Linked DNA regions of Homo sapiens: region 1 is linked to region 2. The links come from fine-mapping of genetic effects on gene expression. A gene starts in region 2. The other region holds a variant in brackets. All regions are shown on one strand. Distances are from middle to middle.

Evidence for each region. PIP is the estimated chance that this variant, and not a neighbour inherited with it, causes the effect.
Region 1: its variant is fine-mapped to the expression of PRMT7 in cerebellum (GTEx, PIP above 0.99). The same link has a PIP of 0.9 or more in cerebellar hemisphere, cerebral cortex, gastroesophageal junction, hypothalamus, nucleus accumbens and tibial artery.

The regions. Positions count from the first base shown.
Region 1 is chr16:68,345,250-68,357,611 of GRCh38, reverse strand. PRMT7 (protein arginine methyltransferase 7) reads right to left here. Exons shown (of 19, transcript NM_019023.5): 10 at 11,810-11,937; 11 at 11,332-11,467; 12 at 10,318-10,401; 13 at 9,934-9,981; 14 at 9,181-9,270; 15 at 5,203-5,364; 16 at 4,046-4,120; 17 at 1,729-1,889; 18 at 815-911; 19 at 1-558. The coding sequence ends at 388. Among named protein-coding and RNA genes, the nearest start is that of PRMT7, 40 kb to the right of the region's middle. RefSeq lists enhancers at 861-1,020, 8,408-8,908. The variant C/T (reference allele first, on the strand shown) is at 6,090.
Region 2 is chr16:68,304,200-68,316,561 of GRCh38, reverse strand. PRMT7 (protein arginine methyltransferase 7) reads right to left here and starts at 5,543. Exons shown (of 19, transcript NM_019023.5): 1 at 5,463-5,543; 2 at 4,386-4,520; 3 at 488-665. The coding sequence starts at 582. SLC7A6OS (solute carrier family 7 member 6 opposite strand) reads left to right here and starts at 5,616. Exons shown (of 5, transcript NM_032178.3): 1 at 5,616-5,827; 2 at 5,949-6,227; 3 at 12,330-12,362. The coding sequence starts at 5,636. It overlaps LOC124903789 (small nucleolar RNA U13), which reads left to right and starts at 3,222; the gene lies at 3,222-3,323. RefSeq lists an enhancer at 5,647-6,611.

The DNA of each region.
Region 1 (12,362 bases), 41 kb before region 2:
GCTCCCGCCACGGGGACTGCTCGCCAAGGGCGGCGTGGACAACCCCACCGGCCAGCCCCACAAGCTCCCTGTGCTTCCACTCCCTTCCCAGCTGGGGAGAGATGTCTCTGTGTTGGAGCATTCTCAGCACCTCAGAAGCACAAGCAGGGGGGTCTTCCCAGCCCCTCCAGGGCTCCAAATTCAGTCACCCTCTCATGCTTCCTGCCACAGCTGGAGCCAGAGGCCAGCAGTGCAAAGATGCAACAAGATGCAACACGGCGCAGTCTTTCCCATCCCTGAGGCCGAGCAGCTCCCAGAGAGGAGAGGAGGGCCTTCAGCCTTCCCCGCTAGAAAGCCATGAGCCACTCAGAACCCCAGCCCTCAGGCCACTTTATTGCTCAAGAGTGGTCAGTCTGGGGTATCTGCATGCCTGAACTCCATGATGATGTCGCCTGTGTCGGGGTGAAACTCCACTGCATAGCTGACAGTCCGTGGGCCACCCAGCAGTGCTCTGGGATCTGGGGCAGGGCTGAAGAAGTAGACGGCCTGCTTGCAGTGGGGGTTCCAGCAGCAGCCCCCCTGTAGGAAGAAGAGCAGGAAGATGGTGAGGGCTCCCTGGCACCTGAGCCTCCTTCCTAGCCAGCCTCCAGCCCAGGCAGCTCGCAGCAGAGAGAAGCTGCTCAGGGGCCAGATGGCCCAGGACCACTGAGGGGTCATCATCTGGCCCGAAGAACTTGTGACAGAAACACCCAGAGCATGGGGGCAGGGAGGCCTCCCCAGGCGGCGCCTGCTCTCAGGGTCTGCACGCACACTGGGCCCGGTGCGCAGGCACTACCTCGGGGTCTGCAGGCTCCAGGAGGCCAGTGCTGAGCGTGCACTCCGGGGTCAGGTGGTACTCCATCCATAGCACCGCTGCGTGGCTCTGCCCGGGCCTGTCAAGGAGAGGGGGGCCCAGCAGAAGTAGTCACACAAGAGGCAGCGGGGGAACAGCTGCAGCTCCTGCGGCTTTCCAGAAACCTGTGGTCTTCCCCACTTCCTTCCTGCCCTGCCGGGAGTTCCTAGTGCTGCAGTTACATAAACGTTCCTCAGAAAAACCCCAGCCAGAAGAGCCGCAGCCAAGCCCCCACCTGAGCCAACCCGAGCCCTGCAGCCGGGCCACACATGGGGCAGGGCCGGTGTGGCTGCAGGGTCTGGGGGAGCTTGAGGCACAGCCTGGCACTGAAGGCCGGAAGGCCCCTCTGATGCCCCAGACAGCAACCCTGGGAGCTCAGGTGATGGCGCCCGCCCTGCCTGGCTGCCTGCCCCGAGTTGGGAGGTGCTTCCAGGAGAAGTCACTCCTCGGGCGAGGGTGGGGTGAGGGCCGGAGCAGGACAGGGCTGCCCGTCCCTGGACGCAAGCAGCACTTGCTGACCCTGACCTGCTTCAGCTCCCAGGAGGGTTCAGGAAAATGGTGCATCGGTGACCACAGGAAGTAAGCTCCCATCTTCCTGAGCTGTGATCCAACAAGGGAGCCTCAGCTGTAGAGGGGGAGCAGAGCCCTTCCTGGCTCCTCCACCAGTGGCACACACAGGACCGTGGGAACCACCACACGCGCAGGGCCACTCTGACAGGGAAGGGCAAGGTTGTGGGGAGGACGAATACCCCCTCCACGTGTCAGCGTCTCCCAGGCCAGCTGTGCTCACCACGGGGGTGAGAACTCCAAGGGCAAGCAGCAGCCCCTCCCTGCCCCCCAGCCCTCTCTGCACCCACCTTCTGAGCTCCACGGTGCCCTCGGCACACAGGGGCTGCAGGGGCACCGGCTGCTGGAAGTCAAAGGTCAGGATCTGCCAGGGCTCGGAGAGGCTGCGGCATGGGTACTCCCACAGCGGGTGGGGCTCAGCTTCCCTGCTCTCCCTGAAGTCCAGGGCACGCTGCGAACAGAAGGGGGCCTGGGGGCTGCAGAGACAGGCCGGCAGCTAGACAGAGGTACCGCTCCCCGGCTTGGCTCCCACTGACTGCAGTCACAAGGGGTGTGCGTTCTCCCATAAAGATGCCGAGCGCCCAGCAGACCAGCGGCGCCCCCTCTCTGCCACTTCTCTCTCATCAGTGGCTCCCCAGGCACCGCTGGCTCTGAGCCTCGCTCTCCGGATTTTTAAGATGGGGTGGTGCTGCCTGTCTCAAGCCTTCTGAGGACCACATATCTACATCACTGGTGAGAACACCCAGCACCTAGAAACTTGGTGACCACCACAGCTGTGTGGCCCCGACAGGTGGGCCCCGGGCCACAGGGAGGGATAAATGCGTGACAGTACAGCCCCGGTGCCTGGCGGCAGGCTGGGGGCACCTGCATCCAGGAGGGATGCAGAAAGCTACCTGGAGGAGGGGAGGTGACGGTCAAATGGGAGCCGGCAGGAGAAGGGCCAGAGGGGGCCTTGAGGATAGAGCTAAGTCAGGAGAGCAGGCCAGGGCACCCAGGCCAGCCGGGCCACTCTGCAGGTGTGGTGTGGGGAGCCAGCTAGGGCATTCCTGCAGTGGGGATGTGGCCAGACTCAGATCTACAAGTTCATGTGGGCTCCGTGTGGAGGACGGCCAGAGCAGGAGGGGCTCAAACCAGGACGGCAGCAGTCAGGGGACAGCCTGGGTCGGAGGCTCACCAGGAGCACGAAGACCAATGGCAGGGGATGGGAGGACTTGCCAGGGAGGATGCCCGGGGCCCTGGGCCTGGCTGGTCGTGTGAAGTGGCGCCAGGTCTAAGACAGGGCACTGGAAGGGCCAGGCTAAGGGTGGGGAAGGGCAGGTGGATTTGGAAAGCATAGAAGTAAAAATGCCTGGCACCCCACTGTGGGATACCCACCACTCTCGGCCATCTGCCTTAGCACACGAGAGACAGACACTGGCCCAGGACCAGAGTAGCAGAACCGTATCAGCAAGAGGGGACAGGGACAGCCAGGGTGGGCAGGCCATGAGCAGGGGCCCAGAGGAGGCGTAGAGCGCATGGGTCCAGAGCACGCAGGGCTCAGCACGAAGGAGATTTCTAAAAGCATCGAACAGTCAATGGTCTGCTGTGAGGGGCAGATAAGATACAAACTGAAAATATCCACAAGGTTTAATTTACTTAAAAAAGTGTTCACACACAGGCAATCCATGTTCACTATGGGAAAATGAGAGCAGAAAGGTGAGCAGAAGCAGAAAAGCCCCACCTCCCGATGCATAGCTGCTGCTGCGGGGCCACCGCTGCTTCCCGCTCCTCTGGTGTCCATGAGATTTCTTTTTTTGAGACAAGGTCTTGCTCTGTCACCCAGCCTGGAGGCAGTGGCACAAACGCAGCTCACTGCAGCCTCGACCTCCCAGGCTAAAGCCATCCTCCCACCTCAGCCTCCTGAGTAGCTGGGAATACAGGTGTGCACTACCATGCCTGGCTAATTTTTTGTTATTTTTTGTCGAGACAGGGTCTTGCTATATTGCCCAAGCTGGTCTCAAACGTCTGGGCTCAAGCAATCCACCAGCCTCAGGTTCCCAGAGTGCTGGGATGACAAGCAGGAGCCACGTGCATTTCCTTAATACACAGCACGGCCCATGCTCCTCACCCTGCCCCTCTCATGTGGATGGAACACGACTCTCAGCTTCAGTCCTCATGAATCCAAGGACCACTGGCGCTGTCAGGACAGCCCATGGTTCTGGAGAACGTAGGCCCAGTTGCTAACCCCTACCATGTAAATAACCTGTGGGAATCTCCTCAGGTACCCCTCCCGGGAATGGAGCCCCCACCATGGAAATGGCTGCCTAAGAAGGTTCCCAGATGGCCTCTGGAAAGTCAGCCCCACTAGAAAAGAAGCTGTGGGCACTGGCAGGGGCAGTTGCAATGACAGGACGTGCAGGCCCAGTGGAGATTCTGACACAGGGTGACAGCACGGAGCCAAGAACAGGGCTGGTACCAAGCAATGCTCATGTTGAACCACACAAAATGGCAGCACCTGACCTCACTGCCCCCAACAGAAGAGCCTGTGCTGCCCAAGCTGGGACCCTGTGAGAGGCCTGCGATACAGGAGCAGGTCGGGGGTACTATGCAGAGTGTGGCCCTGCCTACCTTAATCATGTCGTCCATGATGTGCACGTCGAAGCCTTCGCAGTCACCACAGGGGCTCCGGATCCGCCACAGGTCCTGTGAGGAAGGAGCAGCCCCGTCCACACCCGCCCGCCAGGACACAGGGAAGCGTGGCAGCAAGAACAAGAGGCACATCTTGCTGTTCCCTGCACACCTGAAAGAGACCCCCAAGTATGAAGGGGCTCAGAGAGAACAAAGATCCACAACGGTTTCTGTAACAGACTGGGCTGGGCGGGAACCTGCAAGCTCTGACGTGACACCTGAGTCCTCTCCTATAAGGGACAGTCGGCCAGAGCTCCTAGGCTGGGGGCTGCACACTCCTATCCGGGCCATCCTGAACATCATTTCTTTGGGAAGAAATCTGTAAGCCAATTCTCTCCCCAGCATCATCTCCAGTTCATGAGGATGCTGGGGAGAGAAAAAGGCCCTGCCAAGAGGAACCCAGAGGACACTCAGGCCACACAGCCTTCCCTCCCTTCCTCCTGGTCACACGCACGCATGGATCGTGACATCCCCTCTTTGGCCATGAAAACCAGAATTCATGTGGAAATCTGATTAGGTAAACAAGTAACACAGGAGAAATGCCCAGACTTTCAGTGATGGAGCCACTAAGCTAGGAGAGAAAACCACTCTCATCAAATGAGATACACTCTCCATCCAGGGTAAAGCTTTTCAAATCCTTTTAATAAAAATGCCCTTCCCAAAATGACTTTGTGACTATGGTTCTGCTTTGATGAGAAAATTAAAAGGAAGCTTTTCCATTTTTTCTTGCACAAAGCAGCTGACTCTCCCATCTCAAAATGCCTTTAACAATCGAAGCCTCGGCTATTAATGAGAGCAGAGCAGGCCACACGGCATGGCTTCTGAAACGCTTAATTTATATTTTTAAATTATTCTGATAAGCCACAATTGTAAAATGACAACACTCAGCCATTTCCATTTCGTATGTCAAATTATCGCATTTTTTAAAAGGCAAGCATCTTCTATTCAACCCCACAGTGTGCTGACACAGAAAGAAAACACAAGCTCAAATCATCAAGGCCTGAGCCGCTCTACAGGCACCCAAGGTTCCTGCAAGAAAACAAGGTTCCCCACCCGCCTCCTCTGCTTTTTTCTCCAACATCCCCTGGGTGGCCTACCCTGAACTCCACAACCACAGCGTGCAGCGAGGCTGCCTGGGGCATCACCATGGCACCTGGCCCCAGGTGCTGGTCCACAGCGGTCCGCACGTACCAGAAGTAGAGGTTGTGCCACGGCAGCAGGCTGGTAGTGAAGAACGGCTCGCCCAGGAGGAGAGAGACCTGGTGAATGGGCGAGAAGCAGGGCCCAGGTGTCAGTAGGGCTCGGTCCAGGAGTGTTAACAGGAACACGGAAGCAACAGGCCACTCAGTCACTCAAGTCACTCCCTCACTCCCTCCCTCTCCCTCCCTCACTCAGTCACTCACTCATTCCCTCCCTCCCTCATCAGTCCCTCCCTCCCTCAGTCAACAAACAAGCAAGGCAGCAAGGTGCTCTGTACCTGCCCTGGAGGCTGTAAAGATTACAACCAGACATGAGTCCCGTGCTCAGGAGAGCAGAGCAGAAGAGGGAAGCAGACAAAGTGGGGCTGACCCCATGTGATAGAAAAAAGCAAGGAAGGGGGTCATGGAGGGAGCCCAGAAATAAACGTGCCAGACGGGGCTTCCAGAGTGGCATCCTGTCAACCCCCACTGGACGCTTTATCTCAGGACTTACCGGGGCTTGTCTCCGTCTCCCTCCCCAGGCTCTGAGCACCACAAGAGCAGGGACTGGTGGCCCAGCATCCCCCAGCAGTGGGCCAGTGCCGTGACCAGATGTTCTGTGAACATTTGTGAGTAAATGAACACGTGCACAGCGAGGAGCCTGAACGGCCGAGGGAGGGGCAGCAGGGGCAAGAGTGAGGCCGGGAGACAGCAAGGCCCCCCAAGGTGAGGGTGTGGAGCTGGACAGAAGCCAGCCCAGCCCAAGGCAGCCAGGACAGGGTGAGGGGCTGGACTCATCCCGGAGG[C/T]GGCAGTGGGGGTGGTGGATGTCACTAGAAGTTTTCATCAGGGTTCAAAATCAGAAGGAATGTGATTTAGAAGATGCTGCTGAGGACCACGAAGTGTGGAAGGGAACCTGCAGGTGCTGGGGACGGAGGCGACCTGGGAGAGTGCAGAAAGAGTCCGGGTAAGAAACGGAGACTACAGGGTGGGAGGGGTGGGAGGAGTGGAAGGAGTGGCAGAGGGTAAGGAGGTAGCCGACCCTGGGCAGGCCCAAGCAGTCAGGCACCAAAGTGGGGCCAGTCAGAGATGATGGAGATGCAGCAGGAAATGCTGGCAGACAGAAGGGGCTGCCCTGAGTGCTTCCTCGCCTCCCCACACAGCATCAGGAACATGGCAAGAACGCCCGCTCCCACCACTCCAATTCAATGTGACCCCGGTCTACCGGTACACCACACAGTGGCTTTCAGAATCATCTCCTATGCCCTCATCTATGAGGGAGAAAAAAGGCGACTTGTGGATGAATATTTATAGCAGCATTACTCACAACAGCCCAAAAGTAGGAGCCACCCAAATGTCCATCAGCTGAGAAACAGATAAATAACATGGTCTATCCACACAATGGAATCTTATTCAGCAAGAAAGAGAAATGAGGTATTGATTCAGGCTACGACATGGATGAGCCCGAAAACATGAAGCCACATGAGAGGCCAGCCACGAAAGACCACACACTTGTCTGATTCCATTCACACAAGATGCCCAGAATGGGCAAGCTAAAGACAGAAAGGAGAAGAGTGGGTGCCCAGGGCTGGGGGACTGCGGACAAATGGTGCATGACTGCCAATGGGTAATGAAAGGGTTCTTAAACTGATGTGGTGATGGTTACACAACCTTATGAATATACAAAAATCACTGAGTGAATCGTAAGGTATGTGAATTATATCTCAATAAAACTGTTATTTTTTTAAATGGGCAAAAGGCTTGAATAGACATTTCACCAAGCAAGACAAGCACACGAAATGATGTTCACCATCATCAGTCATTGGGCAAATACAAATTAAAACTATGTGGAGACATCACCACACTCCCATTAATATGGTTATGCTAAAAAAAAAAAGCCAATGCCAGGTGCTGGTGAGGATCCGAGAACCTGGACCCTCAGATGTTACCGATGGGGATGTCAAAAGGACAGCCACTTCAACCAACAGTTCAGCAGCTTCTTAAAAAGTCGATCGTAACTACCACATGACCCAGCAATCCACACCAAGGCATCTGCATAAGAGACTGAGGACATACATCCTCTCTAAGACCAGTGAATCCATGTTCACAGAAGCCTTATTCAAAGTGGCCAAAAACTGGACACAATCCAAACGTCCATAAGCACATGAATGGATAGCCACACCGTGGAATGCTACACAGCCTTCAAAAGAACGAAATGGGTGAATCTCAAAGACATTATGCTCAGCGAAAGGAGCCAGACTCACAAGACCACACACTGCGTACCTCACTTTTGAGATATGCCAGAAGAGGCACATACTGGAGACACAAACCAGACCAGTGGCTGCCAGGCCTGGGGCATGGGGATGCAGACTATCAACAGGCTCCCAGGAATTTGGGAGGTAACAGAAATGTTCTCTTTTCATTCCCATTTTTTTTAGAGACAAGGTATCACTCTGTCAGCCATGCTGTAGTGCTCTGCCACAAGCACGGCTCCCTGCAGCCTCCAACTCCTGGGCTCAGGCGATCCTCCCACCTCACCCACCTCAGCCTCCTGGGACTACAGGCACGTGCCACCACACTCGGTTAATTTTTTTTGTTTTTATAGAGACAGGGTCTCCCTATGTTACTCAGATTGGTCTTGAACTCCTGGGTCCAAGCGATCCTCCCACCTTGGCCTTCCGAAGTTCTGGGATTACAGACATGTGCCACCATGTCGGGCCTGGAAATGTTCTAAATGAGACTGGGTGACGGCTAACTCCATATATTTACTTAAAAAAATCACTCAACTGTACAATTGAAATGCATTAATTTTGTGGTATGTCAACTACATCTCAATAAAGCTGTTATTTAAAAAAAGACTGGCAGGAAAGATGAAAGATGATAGCTCCGCGTTGGGTGAGTCCAGTTTGTGGCATATTCAAGGAAAGGTGACAGGATGGCAGCTGGACATGAGATTTGAATCCAAAATAGTAAAGAGTGAAGGCCGGCTCTGATGGTCACTGATTCACACATGAGAAGGAACGTGATTACCAGAGAGGATGCAGTAGGGGAAGCGGGGGACACGGGGAGAGTGCCACGGAGCAGTGCAAGGTAAGGAGCAGCCAGGAAGGTGAGGGGAAAGCGACCTCCCCAGCACAGGCAGAAGTCCCGGGTCACAAGGACAAGCGGGTAGAGCAGATGAAGCCTGCAGGGAGACCGTGGGAGTAACGACGAGGTTGCTGGCAGAAGCAGTTTCAGGGCCCGGAAGCCTGACTGCAGCAGGAAGCCGTGGACGGGGAATGAAGACAGGAGTGCGGTGGAGAGGAAAGGACATGCTCTGCTCCTAGGAACCCCAAGAGAGCTGCTCTGTCCTGACCTGAAGGAGCAGAGATGAGGCTGAGCTAAGAGCAGTACAGCCAGGTGTGGTGGCTCATGCCTGTAACCCCGACACTTTGGGAGGCTGAGACTGGCAGATCGCATGAGCCCAGGAGTTCAAGACCAGCCTGGGCCACATGATGAAACGCTGACTCTACAAAAAATACAAAAATTAGCCAGGCATAATGGCACATGCCTACAGTCCCAGCTACTCGGGAGAGGTGGGAGGATCGCTTGAGGCTGGAAGGTCGAGGCTGCAGTAAGCCAAGATCGTGCCACTGCACTCCAGCCTGGACGACAGCGCGAGACCCCATTTTCAAAAAAAAAAAAAAAAAAAAAAAAAAAAGAGCAGTGCAACCATCTGCTCACCGGGCAGCTCCATGAAAGCTTCACCACACCCTTGATGGTGGGAGCTCGTAGGAGGTAAGGTTGCATGTGGAGGACCCACTGTGAGACTCCAGGGACAGGGTGGGGCCTGGGCTACTTCAGTGCCGTGCTGACCACCCTAACACAGCCCAGCGTGGCCAAAAGGCTCCCGCTACTCACCTTTCTGCCCTGTAGGTCCTCATTTGTTAATAATTCCGGCCGTTTCTCTATGATGTTAATTTTATCTTCCAAGTGGTTAGCCTTGAAGATCTTAGAAAGAAAACCGTAAAATTACTGTATTCATACTAAAGTATTGTGTTTGTCAGGAAAAAAAAATCTCTCAAAGTTGCATTCTCCGCTTTGAATTTTCCGGCAAATGGTTCTGGAACACCACTTTTATCTGCTTTGTGGAAAAATCCTCTCCTTGGGGGGCATCCTATAGACCACGGATGAGATCAGGAGCACAATGTGATAAAAGCAAAAGAAATTTCTCCCGCATGTGCACACCAGGACTCAGTGCGAGCCTGCAGTTCTGGTGAAGGGAGTTCCCCTTTGGAGAGGAAATCAAACCAGTTACTGGCCAGGGAGAGAAATGCCATCTCCCATCAGGCTGTGAGCACTGGCTCCCTCAGCACTGATGTCCCAGAAACACATCCTACATTTAATTCTACCGCAACAGTAGCTTATGTGAAGTGAGGAAAAAAGCCTAAACTTCTTCAGACACAAAAAAACAAAGCAGAGTGCAAATGCCTGCCTCTATTTCAGTGACAGCTCCCAAGGCCTCTGGCTGCTCTCCAGGCAGCAACCAAGACAACACAGGGGTGCAAGCGAGCCACCACTCCTTTGTTCCCCTGGGGCCAATGCCACTTCAAAGCCATCAACCCAGACCCCACAGGTCCTCTCACTATTTCAGCAACAACAATTCTCACTTACTTTTCTCAACAGTTTGTGAGAAGCTGCTGAACTCTCGACTGTAAACACCTAGAGGGAACACCACGCTATTAGTTGTAAGATATTCACTTAACAGAGAAGAAATTAAAGATTAAAATGCGACAAGACCATCCTAAGACAGAGGACACACCTGAACAACCCTCCCTGCCCTCATTCCCTCCCTGGGGCAGCCTGAACACCAGCTCTGAGGCCTGACGCCTGCCTGCACGCACAGGCAATAAACCCCCCAGCCCCTGACCCGAGCATGCTGTGCCCACAACAGTGGCCTTTGCAAAGAGCCTTGATCACAGAATTGTGCACCCGGACCACGCAATGCTCTAACTCACAAGCCCACATCAGGAGGCTGACAAGGGTGCATGTCAGTACCTGCTCCACCCCCAGGTGATGGGCCAGCACGGAGAGCAGGCTGCCATCGCTGACACACAGGCACACGCTGTCTGGCTTCAGCACCTGCGGGGAACAGGCAAGCTCAGCACAGGGCTTCCTCCAGTTTGCCAGAAGATTCCTGCTGGCAAGCTGTCAGAAATACTTCCCTTCTCACTCCACTTGCCCAGACCTCAGACCATCCCCCTGCGTCCTCATGCAGTAACCACCCCCAGCCACAAACATGCCCGCCTTGCTCACATCTCCCCACCTGTCCCCAGTGTCAGGAAAGACACCCCTCAACCCAGCCTAGAGGCCCCGCTGAAGGCCTGCACCACCTGCAGGCCACCTTCCAGTCCATGACAACAGGCTTCTTCCCTGTCTGGTTAGAGCACAGACAGCTGAGAGCCTCCAAGGCTTGAGTGTTCACAATTGACTGCCCAAAGGCAAGGATGCCTTTCTGGGTGACAGACCCCTCTGAGAGAAACTCAGGATGGCTTGGATCCTCCCCCCATCCCCCAAAATGCACACATTCACACCTATTTCTGTACACACCCCCAAGGGCCTCAAGAGACCCTCCCTCTAAGCCCCATCTGTAATCCCCAAGCCGAGTCCCCTGCTACAGGTAGCAGGGAGCAAAGGTTTTCAGGCAGGAGAGCGACATGATCAGATTTACATCTTAGAAAATTTTAGAAAGGTGACAACACATGAAAAGAGGGGGTGGCCTAATCCACCGTGACCACCCACAGCAATGACTGTGTCTGACAAGGCAAAGGTGTCCAGCAGGAGCCCAGCCAGAGGCTCTCCCAGTAGAGCAGAGAGCAAGCCCTCAGGAAGTCCAGCCCCAGGCTCTCCCGCTTTCTGCTCCAGTGCCCACCCAGGAGGCGCTCGCTGAAGCCACTCATAGACAAGAGGACACAGGAAAGAAACAGCAAATCATAAGCAAAGTGCTGGGGTTCATGGGACAAACTTCTTTCTCCCTTTTCCCCACAACAAGCCAAGGGGCTGGACACTTACGGTCCTCAGAGCCTGGACGTATCGATCAGTTCTGTCCTGGTCATTGATCTCTCCAAACCGAGGCCGGTTCCAGAGCAGGTGAGCCTGGCAGTCACACACGGGGCGCATCTGGCGGACTCTCTCATTCTTTTCAGGGCTAGGCCAGGAGATGAACAAACAGACGTGGGCTGTGAGCGCCTCCACAGGTCTCCAGAGGGCATGAATCTGGACACTGGTCTCCAGTAGGCATGAGGGCTTAGAGCACCCGCTAATTCCAGACTTTTCCTACGCATCTGCTCTAAACAGATTCCAGCAACCCATGACAGCCTCTCCTGGGTACACACGAATGGGCACTGACACACTGGTCACAAATCTTTGTTCTTATGTTATTCTGTCCAGACACAAATCAACCCACTGGCACCTCCAGAGGATCTGTAAATGGGGAATTTACATACAAGTCTCAGAGGCTCATCCTCCACCCCCACGAGGCTCGACGTACCTGGTCCTCTGCAGGCTGTACCATACGCAGTAGTCATCGTGGTGGGCTACCAGATAGAGCGCTGAGCCCTGCACCACAGGCTCCTCTTGTGGCAGGAAGTACACACACTGCATCCAGTGGTCCCGCCACTGAAACGGAGAACAGAGTCAGCTGTCAACGAGCTGCAGTATGAGCAATGCTTCTAATCCAGGAGCCAAATGCCAGAGAACTGCCAGTTTTCAGGACGTCCACAATGTAGACTACAGCTGGCTATTGTGGCCAAGGAGATAAATAAACTCTAAACTCAGAGGCCAGTGGCCCAAAAGTTTGCGGGAACCCTGCTGGCTTTAGGAAGACACAATGTGGCCAAGAGCAGCAATCTGCCAGAGTGGCTCAGGGGAGGGGACAAGTGCAGGCTCCAGTCCCCACCCCATCAGAGTAGCACCAAAGCTCTCTCTTCAACACGTAGAGCTGTGCTGAATGTTTCCTTTGAAGGAAAAAAATTGGTTTAAACCTAGTGGTTTAAGGGGAACCTTTTCAGAACAGTCCATGGCACGCATTCCAAAGGCTTTAA
Region 2 (12,362 bases):
ACTCCTGACCTCAGGTGATCTGGCCACCTCGGCCTCCCAAAGTGCTAGGATTAGAGGCGTGAGCCACTGCGCCTGGCCAACAACTCACATACTTTTAAATATTTCTTCTAAGGGAAAAAAAAAACCATTTTCATTTTTTTCATTCAAAAGAATTTAACCATATGATGAACATGTCACCATTTCAGTAAGGCAAGTAAATGATTCAACTTCATCAACACTACTGAGGCTTGGGTTTTCTTTGCTCCGTTAAACAGATGCTGAGGCTCTGCTAAGGCTGCTACATAATGTCTGACTCTCCAAACAGGCATGATTTTGCCTAACTGCTACATATACCTACCTGGCTGAGCAGACCTGCTCAGGACCAACACCAGCCCTCATCATAAGCACTGGGTGACAGCCTAGCCCACGCTCAGACTGGAGCCCAAGGCATCTGCTTTGAGATCAAGTGCCCCACCCAGCTGCAGCCTGCTGTAAACCAACCCAGTACCTTGCAATCTCCTGGTGGTAATCATAGTGTTCATCCTCCTCCAGCCACTCCACAGACCCCGTGGTCGGATTGGCCCGACTGCAGAAGATCTTCATGGTGCCCACTAGCTCCCCAGTTTTAGCACAGAAAAGCAGCCTTGCCAGTTGAGTTCTTGTGGACAAGTCTGACTGTCAGAAATCTATTAACATCAGAAGGAAACAGGAGGTATATAAACAAACGAACAGAAAAAAAATCTATTAACAGCACAATGCCCCAAAATGTGGAGGGGGGAAGGGGAGACAAAAGCGGGGAAAAAAATCAAGAAACTGACAAAAATGTCAAAGCCACTGATAGTATTTGTTAATCGATATTGTAAATGTTTCCAGCAGGAGTTACTTGGTTTTATATTCAGCATATAACATTAAAAAACTACAACAGATTCATACAGATGTCTGGAAACTTCAGCAGGCTTCGGTGCTTCCAAAAGGTTCAAATGAGCCTCACAAGTTCATCTAGGTGCAGCCCTCAAGGCTAGGAGAAGAGATGGGGTACTGTTAAAGAAGTGCCACCAATACTGCCTTCGTATGCTGAACCCTTAGCTTAAGGAAAAATATGAAGATAGAGCAAGTCAAACCAGGAAAACTTTCATCTAAACAATAAATTACAGTCACACATAAACCTAAAAATGGATAATCCCAGGAATATAATGATGAGCAAAAACAGCAAATCACACAACACATGCAATACGATTCCATTTCTATGAAATTTATAGCTATGCAAAATGGAGTGATACGTTCTTCAGGGATCACACTAAAAAGCATAGCAAGGAATCAGGATAGTTAACTCCTAAAAGAGAAGGGAAAGAGATGGGATCAAGGAGGGGTACGCAGTGGACTTCAAAAGTATTGTTCTTTTTCTTAAATTGGGTGGTGGGAACATAAATGTTCACGATATTAGCATTCTTTTTCTTTTTTTTTTTTTTTAAAAGATGGGGTCTCGTTATGTTGCCCAGGCTGGACTCAAACTCCTGGGCTCAAGCATTCTTCCTGCCTCAGCCTCTCCAGTAGTTGGGACTACAAGTGAGTGCCCCACACCCAGCTAATACTAGCATTCCTTATGCTTCATTATTTTTTATAGTGATTACTTCTTATCTATTCAAATTTTAATTTTAAAAGCAATTTTTAAAAACCCTCCATCATCTAAAAAAATTTTGCTTCAAACAAGTAAAATGTCACCAGATTCACGTCTTGTATGGCCTGTCTCCCCAAAGAGATCTATTTCTGGGAGGGAGAGAAACACCACCGCTCAAAGTCTAAAGGCACTCCTCAGCAGGTGTGGGCTCTCCCAATACCCATCCCTCTTACCATGCAGAAAGCAATAGGTGTTCTACACTGCCCTTCCTTTCTTGTTAAACATTGGTGCATCTTCAGGAAAACTTAGAAAGAATGCCTACTCCACATATCCCTAAACATTCCTATGGCATTTTATTGGCCAGAGTTTTTTTTCTTTTGAAGTTATCTAGAGTAAGTAAACATGGAATTCTTACACAAATAGATGAGAAACAGGCTGGGCACGGTGGCTCACACCTGTAATCCCAGCACTTTGGGAGGCCAAGGCAGGCGGATCACCTGAGGTCAGGAGTTCAAGACCAGCCTTGCCAACATGGCGAAACCCTCGTCTCTACTAAAAATACAAAAATTAGCCAGACATGGTGGCGCACGTCTGTATTCCCAGCTACTCAGGAGGCTGAGGCAGGAGAATCACTTGAATCCAGGAGGCGGAGGTTGCAGTGAGCTGAGACCGCACCACTGCACTCCAGCCTGGGCAACAGAGTAAGACTCCGTCACCAAAACAAACAAACAAAAAGCAAATAGATTAGAAACAATCTTCCCTGAACAAACTCAGGCCGGCAGTCAGGTTCAAAGTAGACAATTTGTCCAGGTAAAACTCTACTACTAAAATCTCAGCATACCTATCCCCTAGTCTAATGATTTTCAAACTTTCTGATAACCCCAGTAAGAAATATACTTTAAAATGAGACTCAATACACATACCTGCATGTACGCATACAACTAAATGTTCCACAAAACAATACTGACTTCCTACGAACAAGGCCCTCTGATATGCTCTATTTCATTTTTATTGTTTTTAAGAGATGGGATCTCCCTGCTGTCCAGGTTGGATCACAGTGGCTATTCACAGGCATGATCATTACACTCTACAGCCTTAAACTCCTGGACTCAAGCGATCCTCCTACGTCAGCCTCCCAAGTAGCTAGACTACCGGCATGCACCACGGCACCCAGCTGCACTTTTACTTGCTGGTCAGGACCCATCAATGGGTTGCAACCAGCAGTTTAACAACATTGCTATAATCCACTTTATCTCATGTACTAACATTTATTTTACAGACAGAATATCTAGAACTGTCAGAATCTGTAATGTGCATTAGAAAACTGTGTCCAACAAATGTTGGAGTAGAGAAAGAAATGGCCATATCTGACTGAATGTTCAAGGAAGGCTTAAAAGGTGGATTCAGCTGAGGCAGGAGGAGAAGGAGGGGGTTGTGGACGGAGAAGGCATTTCATCCAATTAGAAAGGCTTAGACAATCATGCACATTATATCAATCAGTTTAGTGAAGTAAAACTGGACCAGGTGTCAAACATATCAATAGGATCCATATGGTAGAGTCCTGAAATACTAATCCTGTGGTCCATGTGGAATCAATTCTGAAGTCACTTCAAGGTTAAGAGTCATCGTTTTGTAGTTCATAAGCGTGATGACTGGGTGTTCATGTGCCTGTGTCAGACGTGCCTCCCTCAAACCTTTACTACATTGGCACGTTACCCATTTGAACTGGAGGAAAAAAAAAACTTATAGTGAAGAACTTTAATCCATAGGATTCCTTTCTTGTCTGTGATGTTGCTGAGTCTAAAACCAGGACCACAGTGTCTTTTCAAAACCTGGAACAGCCCAGGCACGGTGACTCACGCCTATAATCCCAGCACTTTGGGAGACCAAAGCAGGTGGATCACCTGAGGTCAGGAGTTCGAGACCAGCCTGGCCAACATGGCGAAACCCCGTCTCTACTAAAAATACAAAAAATTAGCCAGCATGGTGGCAGGTGCCTGTAATCCCTGCTACTTGGGAGGCTGAGGCAGGAGAATTGCTTGAACCTGGGAGGCAGAGGTTGCAGTGAGCCAAGATCGCGCCACTGCACTCCAGCCTGGGCAACAGAGCAAGACTGTATCTCAAACAAACAAACAAACCTGGAACTATGTCTTGTGTTAACAATTTTATGAAGGCATGAACCTCTTCTGGTGGGCACTACACACCTTCTCTGGCTGAATGCCCTCATCCATTATTATTTGTTCTCTCCCAGAAGCAGTCTACACTACAGATTCAGGAGATATTCTCTGAACCCCTCCTCATTCTCCAAGAGTTGTAAACTTGCATGGCCATTTACAAGGAGGAAATAGAAACCACCATGCCAAGCCCTAATTGTATTAGCCGTCAGACTGCAGAGCAGATGGTCCACTACATTCATTCAAAATGTATTTGCTAGGCGGTGGTGGCTCACACCTGTGATCCCAGCACTGTGAGGGGCCGAGACGCAAGGATATCGAGTCTGGGAGTTCCAGACCAGCCTGCGCAACATAGTGAGACCCCGTTCTCTACAAAAAATTTTTAAAAAAATTAGCCGGGCGCGGTGGCCTGTGCCTGTAGTCCCAGTTACTCCCAGCTACTCGGGAGGCTGAGGTAGGGGAATCACTTGAGCCCGGGAGGCAGAGGTTGCAGTGAGCAGAGATGGCGCCACTGAACTCCAGCCTGGGTGACAGAGTGAGACCCTGTCTTAAAAAAAAAAATATATATATATATATATATATATAAATATACATATATTAAAATTAAAAATTACCCGAGTGTAGTGGCGCGTGCCTGTAGTCCCAGCTACTCGGTAGGCCGAGGTGAGGATCGCTTGAGCCCAGGAGGTCAAGGCTGCAGTGCGCCTCGATCACACCACTGCACTCAGCCTAGGCAGCAGAGTGAGACTCTGTCTCGAAAAAATAAAATAACAAAATTTATTAAATACCTTCTATGTGCCAGGCACTATATTAGGGACTGGAGCCACCACCACAAGCTAGAGAAGACCCTTGCCCTCCAAGAGCTTAGACTCTAATGAGAGAGTAATACAAATTACAGACTACATGAATGCAAGAAATACACAGAGCGTTGTAGAAAGAGAAAACCAAGGTTACAGAAGGACTCTGAGGAAACTAGCATTTGAGATCTACAAGACAGACCGGGATAAAAGTTGGGGAAGAGTTTTTACAGGTCAGGAATCCTTACCCCAACTTTCCCAAGAAAAGGCCCTAAGGTAGAAAGAACTAGGTTGCATAAGCAAAATGTGCCAAAAGCCTGAGCGACCGAAGCACTTTTGCAGAAGCCCCCCGCTCCTCATCTCCTATCACATCTTCTGCTCAATCAAGCTGGGCCTTGTCGACTTCGGAAAGGCGTTTGGATTTTGTTCTAAAAGCACTGGGAGCCACTCAAGAGTTTTAAGCAGAAGCGTATCTACACTAGGCTTACGCTTTTACAGGACCACTCTGGTTGGCGTGTAGTGAATACACGACTCTCCAATTACTCAGAACAGTGAGTGGCAAAGACAACAGGTCTGGCAATCAGAGAACTCGTGGCCCAGTTAGGGGTGCGATGGTTGGAGCTACTGCGGTCTCTGTGGCTGAGGGGAGGCGCCAGGCACGAGTACTGCGACAGAGCCCCGCGAGTGGCAGGCACCCGGCTGCACTGCAGAGCCGGGGCCAGCCTAGAACCCCGCTCTCCTGCAGGCCCGGGTGTCCCGAGCTGCCCCACGCGGAGGAGTCCAAGTAGGCCCACGCTAGGCTCCTCTGCCGAAACCCTGGTGCCAAGGACACCATGCTCGCTGCACACAGAACCCCAAAGCGACCCCACCTTCCCAGCATACCCAGCGCCTCACCCGCCGCGGGAAACCCTCCGCTCGCCTCCGCTGCTACCACTTTTACCGCGGCCAGCACGCGGGGCGGGACCTCGCAGCGTCGAGGAGCGTGCTGGGGGGCGGGTCCTAAAGCAGAACTGGAAAGCTATCCCATCACACCCCGCGAGCTCCCACAGTGCTCAGCGGCAGCCACTATGGAGGCCGCCAGGACCGCTGTACTCCGGGTGAAGCGGAAGCGCAGTGCGGAGCCGGCGGAGGCTCTTGTGCTCGCTTGTAAACGCCTCCGGAGCGACGCGGTCGAGTCAGCGGCACAGAAGACGTCGGAGGGTTTGGAGAGAGCGGCGGAGAATAATGTCTTCCACTTGGTGGCCACTGTGTGCTCCCAGGTATTGGGCGTGGTGCAGCTGGTGTGGAGGGCATCTTCGGGTGCAGCCGGTACGAAACCCGATCCCTGACCCGCTCGCGAACTCCTGCTTACGCTGGCCTCCGTCCCCTGTTGCCCCCTAGGAGGAACCAGTCCAGCCTCTCCTGCGGGAAGTTCTGCGCCCGTCACGGGACAGCCAGCAGCGTGTCCGCCGTAATCTCCGCGCCTCGGCTCGGGAGGTCCGGCAGGAGGGCCGCTACCGGGTGCTTTCCAGCCGCCGATCCTTGGGGACCACCTCGAGCGGCCAGGAGTCCGAGTACACGCCGGGGAACCCAGAAGCCGCCGGGAACTCGGGCTTTCAGTTGTTAGACCTTGTCCACGAGGAGGGAGAACCTGAAGCCGCCTCTGCAGGCTCCTGCAAAGTGAGTATGCCCCTGAAGGTGGTCGCTGGGCTTCTCAGGATGGTAATGCAAGAAGACTGGGCCCAGTCGCAGCACAGTTTCATCTTAAGGGGATGGATGATCCATCCGGCGTGACGGCCTCATTTTACAGATTTGGTTGTTCATCCAACATGTGTTTACTACGTGCCTACGATATGCCAGGTATTTTTTTAGATTCTGTGGATACAGCAGTGAGGACCTAACATGCAGGTAGACAGAAACAGTAAACAAGTCTATTCAGTGTCAGATGATGATAAGGGATGTAAGGAGGCGGGGAGACAAAGCAGGAAGAGTGGTGCCACTTCAGTGAGAGTGTCACTGAGGAAATGACATTTGAGTGAAGACTTGCAGAAGGTGAATGGCAGGGTATTCCACATATCGAGAGGACTTCTAGGCAGAGAACCTGAAAGTAAAGAGGCCCTTAAGCCGTTTCTTTGCTCCTTGCAAGGTGCCTGGAGCCCGGTGAGCTAGAGGAGAGCAGTAAGGAATTTGAGGGGAGGATGCCTGCTAGGTACTTGCAAGGACATTGCCTTTCACCCTGACTGAGATGGGGATCACTGGAGCAAAATAGAGATAGAGCAGGTAGGAAAATTGATCAAAGAGAGGTTAAAGGAATAGTCCTGGATAGCATATCAAGTTTGAGGTAGATTTAGGTCTAGAATGCAAGTTTTCTCACATTTAATCCAGTGCTTTTCTTTATATTACATTTGCTAACTTCATTTGCAATCACTTCCAAAAAAAGTCTACTACATGCAGCAAAACTACAGAAATGGAAAATTCTCCTTGAGGCTGGGCACAGTAGCTGACGCCTAATCCTAGCACGTAGGGAGGCCCAGGCGGGAGGATCACTTGAGCCTGGGGAGGTCAAGGCTACAGTGAGCCATGATTGTGCGGCAGTGGCATTTCAGCCTAGGTGACAGAGTGAGACCCTGTCTCAAAAAAAAATAAAATACTCCCTGTAATCCCAGCGCTTTGGGAGGCTGAGGCAGGAGGGTCGCTTGAGGCCAGCCTGGGCAACAAAGCAAGACCTTGTCACTACAAAAAGGAAGAGGAAATTAGCTGGGCATTGTGGCACGCGCTTGTAGTCCTAGCTACTGGGGAGGCTGGGGCAGGAGGATCACTTAAACTCAGGAATTAGAGATTGCAGTGAGCTGTGATCAAGTCACTGCCCTCTGGTTTGAGCAACAGAGCAAGATACTGTCTCTAAAAAAAAAACCAGAAAATTCTCAACATAAAGTGTGCCCTCTCTTTTTTTTTTTTTTTTTGAGTCAGAGTCTCACTCTGTTGCCCAGGCTAGAGTGCATTGGCATGATGCTGGCTCACTGCAACCTCCAACTCCCGGGTTCAAGCAATTCTCCTACCTCAGCCTCCCAAATAGCTGGGATTACAAGCGTGAGCCACCACACCCAGCTAATTTTTGTATTTTTAGTAGAGACGGGGTTTCGCTATGTTGGCCAGTCTGGTTTTGAACTCCTGGCCTCAGTGATCCGCCCGCCTCAACCTCCCAAAGTGCTGGGATTACAGGCATGAGCCGCTGCGCCTAGCCAATATGCCCTCTCTTGATAAACATTTTTATAGAACTCATTTTAATTATTTTTGCAACTTAAAACAATTATAATTCAAAATGAATCCACAAGCAACAAGCAAATGGTACTAGTGTAATTGTTTATTGTTGTTTTTGTTTTGTTTGAGATGGAGTCTCGCCCTTGTCGCCCAGGCTGTAGTGCAGTGGCGCGATCTCGGCTCACCGCAGCCTCTGCCTCCTGGATTCAAGCAGTTCTCATGCCTCAGCCTCGCGAGTAGCTGGGATTACAGGCATGAGCCACCACACCCGGCTAATTTTGTATTTTTAGTAGAGACGGGGTTTCGCCACCTTGGCCAGGCTGGTCTTGAACTCCTGACCTCAGGTGATCCACCCGCATCGGCCTCCCAAAGTGCTGGGATTACAGGCGTGAGCCACCACGTCCAGCTGGTGCTAGTGTAAGTGGATAGCAATTTGTGTATGATGTCCATAGCCACATCTTTCACCAAAACATTCCAGACTAATGCATGACTTACAAAATGTGTAAAGTAAACCAATGCTCCGTGGAATTGAATCAAGTAAATAGTTCACTAGGCCGGGCACAGTGGCTCATGCCTGTAATCCCAGCACTTTGGGAGGCTGAGGCGGGTGGATCACTTGAGGTCAGGAGTTCAAGACCAGCCTGGCCAATATGGCAAAACCCCATTTCTACTAAAAATACAAAAATTAGCCGGGCGTGGTGGCGGGCGCCTGTAATCCCATCTACTCGGGAGGTTGAGGCAGGAGAATCGCCTGAACGCGGGAGGCAGAGGTTGCAGTGAGCCAAGATTGCACCACTGCACTCCAGCCTGGGCGAGAAGAGCAAAACTCCATCTCAAAAAACAAGAGTAAATAGCTAATTTAATTTTATAAAGAAAACTAGGAGATAAACTGATGACCGATATGAACAGAGATTTTTCCAGTAAAGCAATACCGACTCTAAACATACCAAAAATGTTTGCACAGAGTAATTATAGGGGAAAAATGAATTTAAGCTTAAAGCATGCTTGAGGTTTTATGCATACTAGACTAGCAGGAAAAAAGTAGTTGATAGCAATGCTGGCAAGGCAATGATTAAAAGCGTACACAATTGTAGGAATAAAATTGATGCAAGCCTTTTGGAAAACAGGATGGCATGGGAGCCATGTTTTACATATGTAAATTTATTATTGTTTGGATCTAAAGCCATGCATAATCTAGGAAAATTTTAAAATTAAAAATTTCTAAGGAAATTTAAAAATGACAGCATTTCTATGTTATGTTACAATGAATTTCTCCTTAAATTGACACAATTTACATTTTAAGCAAATAAATTCCTATTAGATAAATTTAATAGGAAATTTAAAAATTAAAGGACTTCAGTTCCTTTTAACTAGTAGTCTCACCTCCAAGATTTATCCTAGGGAGATAATTCAGCAGAAGCAAACAGCTAAGCTAAGCTATGATATTAACAAATGCTACTGTTGATTGACTAAGTAATTATGTCAAATAGCGTGCTAGGTACTTGTTATATTTTCTTTTAATTTAACTCATTTAATCCTCACAAAAACCTTATGAGTGAGATACTTTTCAAATGCAGGAAATGGCACATTCATTGCAACACTATACATGGAGGTTAAAAATTATATCCAAGAGGTTGACACATACAACTGTCTGGACCCTTAGAACTGATAACCATGAAAACTGATTGTGGGCGAAAATATATATGTTTAACAGTACAAAATGCTGTGTGTAGTGAAACTGAAAATATGGGCTGGGCTCAGTAGTTCACACCTGTAATCCCAATACTTTGGGAGGCCAAGAAAGGAGCACTTGAGCCCGGGAGTTAAAGACTGCAGTGAGCCATGATCATACTGCTGCCCTCCAGCCTGGGCGACAGAGCAAGACCCTGATTCTGAGTGAATGAATGAATGAATGAATGAATGAATGAATACACATGGACATAGACTTCAAAATAATTTTCAGCAAGGGTACGGTGGGTTACTCCTATAATCCTAGCACTTTGGGAGGCTAAGGCAGGAGGATTGCTTGAGGCCTGAAGTTCAAGACCATCCTGAACAACATAGCAAGACTCCATCTCTACAGAAATAATAATAATTATTTTTCTTCTAGCTAGGAGGAGTGGTGCACACCTTTAGTCCCAGCTACTCAGGAGGTTGAAACAGAAAGATCATCTAAGGCTAGGAGTTCAAGGCCAGTTTGGGCAACATAATGAAAACCGCCTCTTTAAGCAATAATAGGCCGGGCGCGGTGGCTCATGCCTGTGATGCCAGCACTTTGGGAGGCCAAGGTGGGTGGATCATGAGGTCAGGAGTTTGAGACCAGCCTGACCAACATAGTGAAACCCGGTCTCTACTAAAAATACAAAAATTGGCCAGGCATGGTGGTGCGTACCTGTAATCCCAGCTACTCAGGAGGCTGAGGCAGGAGAATCACTTGAACCCGGGAGGCAGAGGTTGCAGTGAGCTGAGATCACGCCATTGCACTCAAGCCTGGGTGACAAGAGCGAAACTCCATCTCAAAAAAGAAAAAAAATAATTTATGCTCATTATGGGAAATTTGAAAAAATATAGCAAAGGAGGAAAATCTCCCATTTTACCATCAACCCAAAAGTAGGTAGAATAGAACTGGTTTATTTCCTTCTGAGTACAAAATTCTGTATCTGTCATTTTTCTGTATTGCTAGTCTTGTACCTTTTTTTGAGACAGCGTCTCGCTCTGTTGCCCAGGCTGGAGTGCAGTGGCATGATCACGGCTCGGTGCAGCCTCCACCTGGGCTCATGTGATCCTCCTGCCTCAGCCTCTCAAGTAGCTGGAGCCACAGGCCTGCGCTACCACACCCAGCTAATTTTTGTATTTTTTGTAGAGACGGTTTTGCCATGTTGCCCAGGCTGGTCTCAAACTCCTGGGCTCAAACATTCCTCCGACCTTGGCTTCCCAAAGTGCTGTGATTACAGGCATGAGCCACTGTGCCCAGCAATCTTATATTTTAATGGCTGCATAATTTGACTGAGTGGAGGGACTTAGGGGTTGGAGCCAGAACTTTTGTCATAGGTAACTTTAAGTTTGCTCAAGGTTCTGCAGAAAAACTGGCATCTCTAGCTTCTTTTTGACTTTGGAGCAAGGAAGAATTCCTTAGTCTGTAAATTATAGCATTGGTCTCCCCTTGTCTGCCTTGGCCATGGGATCTTCCCCATTTTCCTGCGTGGTGTCTGCTTGGAGCTGTGCAGTGTCCTGTGATGAACCTATCAAGAGGAGCCATCTGCAGCATGTCCCTGTGGTTAATAAACTGACCCATGCTACCAGGCCCCTGGATAATACAGCCTGTCAGCACTGGAGCACATCTTACCTGGGCCATTTCTATTCTGGGGCATTGCATTTCAAACTGTTCTTTCCAGTAGAAAGACTATAGGTGAGCCCATTCCCAATTTGTGGTTAAAAGTAGGATGTCAATATATGGCAAGCCAAATGATGGGCAATGGTAGAGGTCACCAGGAAACACCTGTTGGCTTCTACAGGAGGCCACACAAAATAGAGACTCATTTCAGGTTCAGCCATAGGGGTGCTACGGTGGACCTACTGATCCCCAAAGAGAGAACATTGTATAATACCAAAGGATCTCAGAAGACCTATAGAAGCAGGTCTGACTCAGAGCTTGGGGTCAAGACTGGCCAGGTCTTCTGTCTTTCCCCTCTCCTTAGGCCAGTCTTCCCATATTTTTTTTCTTTCATTGTTTTGAGATAAGTCTTAATCTGTCACCCAGGATAGAGTACAGTGGCATGATCACGGCTCACTGCAGCCTCAACCTCCTGAGTACCTGGGACTACAGGTGCACACCACCACACCCAGCTAATTTTTGTATTTCTTTGTAGAGACGGGGGTTTTGCCATGTGGGCCAGGCTGGTCTTGAGCTTCTGGGCTCAAGCAAGCTGTCCACCTTGGCTTCCCGAAGCATTGGGATTATAGGTGTGAGAGCCAAGCACAAAAGAGCAGGAGCCTATCTTGTACGTTTCTATCTTAAAGTAAGAACTACACATTAATTTTACAGAGATTCTTGATTTTTTAATGTAATAATTAATTAAAAGACTAGGAATTCATGGGGATAAGAATCTTGACCACAACACTATGGAACTGTAGCTGAGCAAGGTGGCTCACACCTGTAATCCCAGCACTTTGGGAGGCTGGGGCGGGCAGATTACTTGAGGTCAGGAGATCAAAACCATCCTGGCTAACACAGTGAAACCCCATCTCTACTAAGAATACAAAAAATTAGCCAGGCATGGTGGCACGCACCTGTAGTCCCAGCTACTTGGGAGGCTGAGGTAGGAGAAACGCTTGAACCTGGGAGGCGGAGGTTGCAGTGAGCCAAGACCACGCCACTGCACTCCAGCCTGGGCGACAGAGTGAGACTCCGTCTCAAAAAAAACTGTAGGGAGCCTTCCTTCACCCAACTCATAGGTTCCTCCTCTTGGAACATCATGTTTTGGGTCATGCGTGTGTGTGTAATCTGTGGTTTCTTTACAGACATCTGACCCAGATGTGATCCTCTGCAATTCT